Linked DNA regions of Homo sapiens: region 1 is linked to region 2. The links come from fine-mapping of genetic effects on gene expression. Tissue or cell type: whole blood. Region 2 holds a variant in brackets; the other region holds the start of a gene. All regions are shown on one strand. Distances are between the middles of the regions.

The links. PIP is the estimated chance that this variant, and not a neighbour inherited with it, causes the effect.
Region 1: INTS8 starts here. The variant in region 2 is fine-mapped to the expression of INTS8 in whole blood (TOPMed, PIP 0.97).

What each region holds. Positions count from the first base shown.
Region 1 is chr8:94,820,685-94,824,796 of GRCh38, reverse strand. It overlaps INTS8 (integrator complex subunit 8), which reads right to left and starts at 1,510. Exons shown (of 27, transcript NM_017864.4): 1 at 1,236-1,510. The coding sequence starts at 1,365. RefSeq lists an enhancer at 864-923 and a silencer at 1,084-1,473.
Region 2 is chr8:94,881,766-94,886,026 of GRCh38, reverse strand. CCNE2 (cyclin E2) reads left to right here. Exons shown (of 12, transcript NM_057749.3): 8 at 469-564; 9 at 826-960; 10 at 3,135-3,246; 11 at 3,738-3,895. Among named protein-coding and RNA genes, the nearest start is that of CCNE2, 11 kb to the left of the region's middle. The variant C/T (reference allele first, on the strand shown) is at 2,553.

The sequences.
Region 1 (4,112 bases), 61 kb after region 2:
GGGGGGGGGGGGAGTTTGGGTTTTTTTTTTGCCACAAAAGGAATCCAAACAGCTGCGCTGTTAAAATGACTAAGGAATACGTATGTAAGAAGTGTGCCTGGGGGTTAAAGGAGATGCGGAAGAGTGGTAAGGAGGAAGGGTAACAGATTAGAGTGGAAGAAAGCAAAAAAAAGCACCTTACGGGGAAGAACATAACAGTCATAGATTTCTGGTTCTGCAAATAACCACTGCCAATTAGAAGAATGAGATATAAATATTAGAACTATTATTTTGACACTTAATTAGGGGGACCTCCATCAAGTGACCTCTCCGTACCTGCTTCTTCCAATGCAAAATAGAGGATCATTTTGAAGATTAAATTAAAGGAGGTAACGGATGTGAGCAATTAAGCACAGTGCATGGCACCCGGAAAGCACTCAACAAATTATCTTTCAAAAGGAATGAATTAAGGGCATTATACAGGTGCCAAAACTGCCTAAGTACACTAACTTCTTACACAGTGGTCTCTATCAGTGAAGGCCAGTCTGAGACTGAACAAGCCATATCTAGATTTGAATTTAGAGAAATGCTATCCGAGGAACTTACCTTTTTGTGCCAATACCTTTTTTGAGAATGCCTGGAGTTTTCCTCCTCCCCCATCAATCACACCCATTTAACTGGGCTATTAATCATTATCATCACTATACAAAGCCATCTTGCAAATGTGCAGCAGTTCCTACTTTCAAAGATTTTCTTTTAACTTACAGCCCAACTTTGGAATAAGAGTCAATAAAATTCCCTCACTGAAGAAAAAAATGTTTAAATAAAACCTAAGATAATAACTAGCGTCACGATCAACACCCAACAGCTGGTTTCTCCCCAGCTCCCTGAATTTATTCAGCTTGGGGTTGAAGGAGGCGTCTGGTCAGCCTCCCCGACCCAAGCAACCACAAGACCCGCCTCGCAGCCTCTAAAACCCCAACAGTAAAAAGGTAAATCGTAAAAAGGACCAAAGGGTTTAGGATGACAGCACCAAGCCCTCCCCTCCGGGGGTAGGAGAGCCTTTGTTTCGAGCTTTTCTTTGACCCTCCACCCGGGCATGTTTAAGGGAAGCGAGGAGCCCGGCCGGAGCTGGGCTCCTGTGCGCGCCTCCCAGGCCGCAGCTTCGGTGACCGAGAAGGCGGGGAGCGGAGGGAAGCTGGGCGGACAGCGCCGGTGGCCGGGTCCCGCTCCCCAGGTGCAGGCGCCGCGCTCACCCGGGCAGGGCTTGCGCAGATGTTTCTCCAACAGTGACTCCTCCAGCAGAAACTCAAACCAGCAGGTCTGCGGCGGGGTGCAGGGCCGGCTGGAGGTGGCCGCCTCCCGGTCCGCCGCCTCCGCGCTCATCCTGCCCCCGCCGCCGCTACCACCAGGGCCGCTTCCCGGCTCCAACCTGACACTTGGATGCGGGCCGGTGCCTGGGGTATGCGGAACCCGGTGGGAGAGAGGCCACCCTCCGAACGTCCCGGAAACTCACACAATCCAAAATGGCGGCGCGGGCCAGCCGGAGCTGCGGTCCTGGATCCGCCTCCCCGCGCCACCGCCGCGCCTTCGGACCAATCGTTGTTCGGGTTGGAAGGAAAGGGGCGTGACTAACCTTCGAACCACGCCTCCTCCCGGTTGCCATAGGAGACGGCGCCGCATGAAGCCGGGTCGCGGGTGGGTTTTCCGTGTTCCCTGACAGTTCTCCAGCGAGAAAATGAGACAACCTCATCTAGGGTTGCAACGGGCCTCAATATTTTCGTAAAGGCGAAGCGAAGGGTTCTAGTTGTGACCCAAGCAAAGTTTATCTCCTGTGCTTTCAATTTCCCCGTTCCCATTTCTGAGATTTCCTCGCACCTGGGTCCTCTCCTCAGATGCTCCCGCCGTCCTGCCGAGAACACCAGCTTCCCACTCGCTTCCTGGACGGATGGCAGCATACGGTGAGCAGCCCTTGCTGCTAGCTCCCGATACTTAGAGCCTAGTTGATCCTTTCGATATCCCCGCTAGAGGCGCTGTTAACCCTATACATTTACCTCCGTTCTGTGATGTTCTTGTATTTTTCATTAACGATTAAAACTGAAAAAAGATGCATTCATAGATCGTGAATACAAGGCCAGCCTGACCAATATGATGAAACCCCGTCTCTACTAAAAATACAAAAATTAGCCGGGCTTGGTGGCGGACGCCTGTAATCCCAGCTGCTCAGGAGGCTGTGGCAGGAGAATCGCTTGAACCCGCGAGGCGGAGGTTGCAGTGAACCGAGATCGCTCCATTGCACTCCAGCCTGGGCAACAGAGCGAAACTCTGTCTCAAAAAAAAATTTTTTTTAAGTAGCCGGGTATGGTGACACACACCTGTGGTCCCAGCTACTCAGGAAGCTGAGGCGGGAGGATCACCTAAGCCTAAGAGATTGAGGTTGCAGTGAGCTGTGATTGTGCCGCTACACTCCAGCCTGGGCAACAGAGTGAGACCCTGTCTCACAACGAGAAAAAAAAAAAGAAAGAAAAAAAAGGAAATCAGTACAGATTAACTTGACATTTTGACATTTGTATTACATATGTAAAAATAAGTTTTAATTAAGGAAGAGTTCATTATTCCACTACCATCTAATACAATAACAACATTATATATTTCAAGTCCCAAGGTGTTTTATTTAGACTCAAAAATGTCTTGCCATAAAAGTGTTACAGCACTGAACTCCCCTTTTCAGAGTGGGTAATTGAATACTTGAAGGTTGACAGAGATCTTGAAGTTTATTAAACTTAGAGACCATCTCTTAGAGGGAGTCATAACTTAAGACTTCATCAACATTGGAGGAGTCTAATGAACTCAAGCTTCCAGCCAGGGACTCTTGTCCCTCTAATGCAGGGCAGGTGACCCCAAATTGGAACTTCACCCCAGAGAGTTCTTTGCTTTGTCCAGGAAAGAATTCAAGTGTGAACCAGTGGTAGAAGAGAACAGCTTTACTGAAGTGGCAGTGTTACAGCTCTGTGACTGCCCCTGCAGAGCAGGGCTAACCCACAGGCAGTGCGCTGAGAATACCAGCTCAGGGAGGTTCTGCAGGCATATTTACACCCACTTTTAATTGCATGCAGATTAAGGGGAAGTTTATGCAGAAATTTCTAGGAAAAAGGTAGTAACTTCTGGGTCATCGGGTCATTACCATAGAATGGGGTGGCAATGCCCAGGTGTTGCCATGGCAATGGTAAACCGACATGGCACACTGTTGAGCATGTCTCATGGAAAGCTGCTTCAGCCCCATCCCTGAATTTGGTCCGGTGTCCAAACCCTGACTCCAGAGTCGCATCTCACCTCCTACCTCACTTCTGAGCAGTATGTTTGGAGGGTGTCTGTCAGAAGACCCTCAAAACTACCAGTTGCTTCTGCTTTGATGCAAGACACATATCCCAGCTGTGGCCAAGTTTGCTTGCCTGGGTCTGGAGTGACACATCTTTCCCTGTCAGTGTGTGACAATCCTGGTGTGGGTTCAGTGTTCTTGAAAGGTGTCCCAGAATGTCAAAAAGCCAAGGCTTCTTCAACTTGCTATGTCTTCGGCTCTCAGAAACAACAGAGGCAAAAGAAATATTTAAAATTTTGATTTAAAAAATAATACACTTGGAAAGATACCATCAGGAAAGTGGAATGACAACCCAAAGACTAGAAGAAAATATTTGCAAATCATGTGTCTGATAAGGGACTTACATCTAGAATATGTAAAGAACTCTTACAACCCAGCAACAACACAGTGAGTAAAGGATTTGAATTGGCCAGGCACGGTGGCTCACGCCTGTAATCCCAGCACTTTGGGAGGCCGAGGTGGGTGGATCACCTGAGGTCAGGAGTTCAAGACCAGCCTGGCCAACATGGTGAAACCTCATCTCTACTAAAAATACAAAAATTAGCCTGGCATGGTGGCGGGCACCTGTAATCCCAGCTACTTGAGAGGCTGAGGCAGGAGAATTGCTTGAACCCACGAGGCAGAGGTTGCAGTAAGCTGAGATTGTGCCACTGCACTCCAGCCTAGGCAACAGAGCGAGACTCCGACAGAGCGAGACTCCATCTCAAAACAAAAAAAAAAAAAAAAAAAAAAGGATTTGAATTGATCATTCTCC
Region 2 (4,261 bases):
TTGAAAGTGCACTTTCTGGCCAGGTGCAGTGGTTAATCCCAGCACTTTGGGAGGCCAAGGCAGGCAAATCATTTGCAGTCAGGAGTTTGAGACCAATCTGGCCTACATGGTGAAACCCTCTCTCTCCTGAAAATGCAAAAAATAGCCGGGCACAGTGGCACACACCTGTAACCCCAGCTACTGGGGAGGCTGAGACCCAAGAATCACTTGAGCCTGGAAGGTGGAAGTTGCAGTGAGCCAAGATTGCACCACTGCACTCCAGCCTGAGACTCTGCCTCAAAAAAAAAAAAAAAAAAAAAGAAAGAAAATGTACTTTTTGTCTTTGCTTATTTCTCCAAGAAAATGAAAATGCACTTTCTACTTAAATGATATTTTGGTTTATTGGGATGTAACCCCATTGTAGACTGAGGAACATTTGTAATTAATTTCTATCTCAATTGTACTCAATAAAAATATTACAATTTAAAGGAAATCTATGCTCCTAAACTCCAAGAGTTTGCTTACGTCACTGATGGTGCTTGCAGTGAAGAGGATATCTTAAGGATGGAACTCATTATATTAAAGGTAATAATAATTATGTTTTCCTAGTTGCAAAAAAGAAACCATGTTACTAAGTAACATAAGTAGTTATAATTGAATCTCAAATACTACAATGTAAAAAGTCAAAACTGAGGTATTAGGATCCAGTTCTAAGAGGTTAATGCATCAAAATATTGACAATGGTTATGGTTGGATGGGGAATGTACTTAACCTCTAAGCTCTGCTGTATAATGTGGTGTATGTGTCTACATTCATTAACAGGCATTTTTAAATTTTGTTTAATAGGCTTTAAAATGGGAACTTTGTCCTGTAACAATCATCTCCTGGCTAAATCTCTTTCTCCAAGTTGATGCTCTTAAAGATGCTCCTAAAGTTCTTCTACCTCAGTATTCTCAGGAAACATTCATTCAAATAGCTCAGGTACTGACATTTTTATTGATTCAATGGTAATGTTATTAATTACAGGTTTTAGTGTATATATAGTCTTAAATAGGCTATACCACAAAATGACATATTGACTTCACTCCTTAATTCTAGAACAAAACTTTTGACGCATAAAGTTCTGTCCCCAGTGTTTATGTTGCTTAATATTTCTAGAAAAACAAAGTCCTTACACTTTTCTGAGTACTTTCATTCTTTAGGAGTCCAAACTAAAGTATCTCTTTTTGATATAAAATGGGGAAAAGCATTTTTTTCGCCAGTTGTGTTTAAGCTTTATAATGGCATAGAATTATTCTGTATGATGTCTTTACATTTGGATACACAGAGTGCCTATCAAGTTAAATATCAGAATTAAAATTACTTTGTTAAAAAAATTTTTTAGAACATAAATTCAAAGTAAACTTTTCCAGGCTAGCATATTTAACAAAGTAAGTAAGTAGAGGAGGAGGAGGATCTGGCCGGGCACTGTGGCTCAGGTCTCTAATCTCAGCACTTTGGGCGGCTGAGGCAGGCAGGCAGATCACTTGAGGTCAGGAGTTTGGGCGGCTGAGGCAGCCTAGCCAACATGTTACTTGGGAGGCTGAGGCAGGAGAATCGCTGGAACCTGGGAGGTGGAGGTTGCAGTGAGCCGAGATCGCACTACTGCACTCCAGCCTGAGCAACAGAGCAAGACTCCATCTCAAAAAATTAAAAAAAAAAAAAAAGAGGAGATCCCATTCTTTCTTGCTTACTTCTCGTAAGTAATCTTAAGGCTGCTGTATCTGCCATATAACAAAAGTGAAGAAAATCTACCCTCTTATTCTATGTGGGATGTGAAAATCTAACATATGGAAGACATTTGGGGATAATTATTAAGTCACCTAGGTTAAAATTTGTGGGCAGTGGTGCTTAAATCTAGCACATTATGAATACTCAAATTGGATAACCACTAAGTATACTGAAATTGGTTTATTTTATAAAACTTTTTATTAAAAGCTTAATTTTTTCATCCAGAATTCCTAGCATCCCAAATTGTCCTAGGCAGCTATACCCTTCTGATAGTGATGGTAAATCTTTGATAAGCCGATAAACAATGTGGACTTTCTAGAGGTATATAACAGTAATATTTCACTTCCAATTCCCAGCTCTTCTCCCATTTCTCCTACCTTCTGGACCAATGAGGACAAACAGAATTGAAGTTTAATTCCACTGCACAAGTATCTTCTCAAATCTGTGAAATCTACCCCTTTTACACTATACCATTCCACTGCTACTAGTTCAGCTCTTATTGCCTAGATTATACAGCCTTTTAACTAATCTCACTGCTTAATAAACATGTTTTCTTCTAGTCTGTCTGCTTCACTGCATTCTAAGGTATCTTTCTTAAAATGGAACTTTGATTTAAAAATCTTCCAGTAGCTTCAAGAATCAGCCTATAAAATTCTGACTTCTTAAAGACCCTTTGTGATCCAATCTAGACCATGCCTCTTTCTAGCCACCACCCCTCATCTTTCTTGATAAGAAATGAAGGTACTCCTTATTTATTTTTCACCTTAGGAGTTCTGAACTGTGAACTGAGTTCCAAGTAATGT[C/T]CCTATACCTAGAACATTCTCTGCCTCCTACTCTTCCTGGCTCCCTTATCTTTTAAGACCCATTTATGGCAATTTGAGGCCATCACTATCTTTTCCAATCTGGATTAGGTGCCCTTCCTGCTAGTACATGTCACACTGTATTGCAACAGTCCTTCCTTGTCTACTTCCTTCAGGTTGGTGGCTTGTTTTTTTTTTTTTTGAGACGGAGTCTCGCTCTTTCGCCCAGGCTGGAGTGCAGTGGCGCGATCTCTGCTCACTGCAAGCTCTGCATCCCGGGTTCACGCCATTCTCCTGCCTCAGCCTCCCGAGTAGCTGGGACTACAGGCGCGTGCCACCAAGCCCAGCTAATTTTTTGTATTTTTTAGTAGAGGCGGGGTTTCACCGTGTTAGCCAGGATGGTCTCGATCTCGTGACCTTGTGATCCACCCGCCTCGGCCTCCCAAAGTGCTGGGATTACAGGCGTGAGCCACCGCGCCTGGCCGGGTGGTGGCTTATTTATCTCTAGATCCCTAAGGTTTTAGCAAGAGACATTTAGTACTCATCTTTCTCCTAAATTGCTTGTACTTTTGTTTTTCCTGTTAGCTTTTAGATCTGTGTATTCTAGCCATTGATTCATTAGAGTTCCAGTACAGAATACTGACTGCTGCTGCCTTGTGCCATTTTACCTCCATTGAAGTGGTTAAGAAAGCCTCAGGTAAGACTCTCTATTTGTTGTCTTCTTACCTTTTCACAACTTCTAATGGGACTACAGTCTCTGAACTTTAACATTCTGCTAAACATGCATTTAAAACTTTGGCAAAAAAAAAATTAGCTGTTCAGTAATTATCTTTCTGTTAGAAGTACTTTCCAATCCTGAATGTGTATCAACAAAAAGACCAAATGGAATTTAAATACAGTTGAAATGAATCAACATTATAGTTCTGCTTTAAGAGTTCTTTGGGATTTGACCATTTCAATTTCATATGTAGAAGGTACTGGTTAAGAAGTTCTGAAGTCCTTTTTCCCTTCAACATAGTCATGTAAATAGTTTGAGAGTGATAATCTGTTTTGACATGCTAAACTTCTTGGTTATGATTTGGTTTCTTTTAAAATATCTCAAAAACAGCAACAAGTACATCAGACATATGTAAGATAGTTTCTGATGTACAACCTTCATGCTTTTCTAACTTTTTTCTATCTATCTAGGTTTGGAGTGGGACAGTATTTCAGAATGTGTAGATTGGATGGTACCTTTTGTCAATGTAGTAAAAAGTACTAGTCCAGTGAAGCTGAAGACTTTTAAGAAGATTCCTATGGAAGACAGACATAATATCCAGACACATACAAACTATTTGGCTATGCTGGTATGTTTTTTTGTGAGTTTTTTGGCTTTGCTATCTGAATCTAGTAAGTCACCAAAACTGATGGTAGGAATAGAGTACTCCTTCAGGCAGTTTCAGGGGAAAGAAAGTTCTAAGGGGCACACTGATTTCAAAATGTAGAAAAGTTAATAAAATTACTTTGAAATCAAAGCAAGATTTGTGAAGTGTCTCAAGATCAATGCCAACAGTCTAGATAAAGAGTTTAAAAAATATATAACGTTACAGAAACTTTCAGAATATGACCCTTCACACTTGCAAAGACATAAAAAGACTATTAAAATTAGGCCTAAATAATCTCAAATAAGTACCCAGAAGTCTGGTTTGACTTTGATTTATGAAATCAGTGCA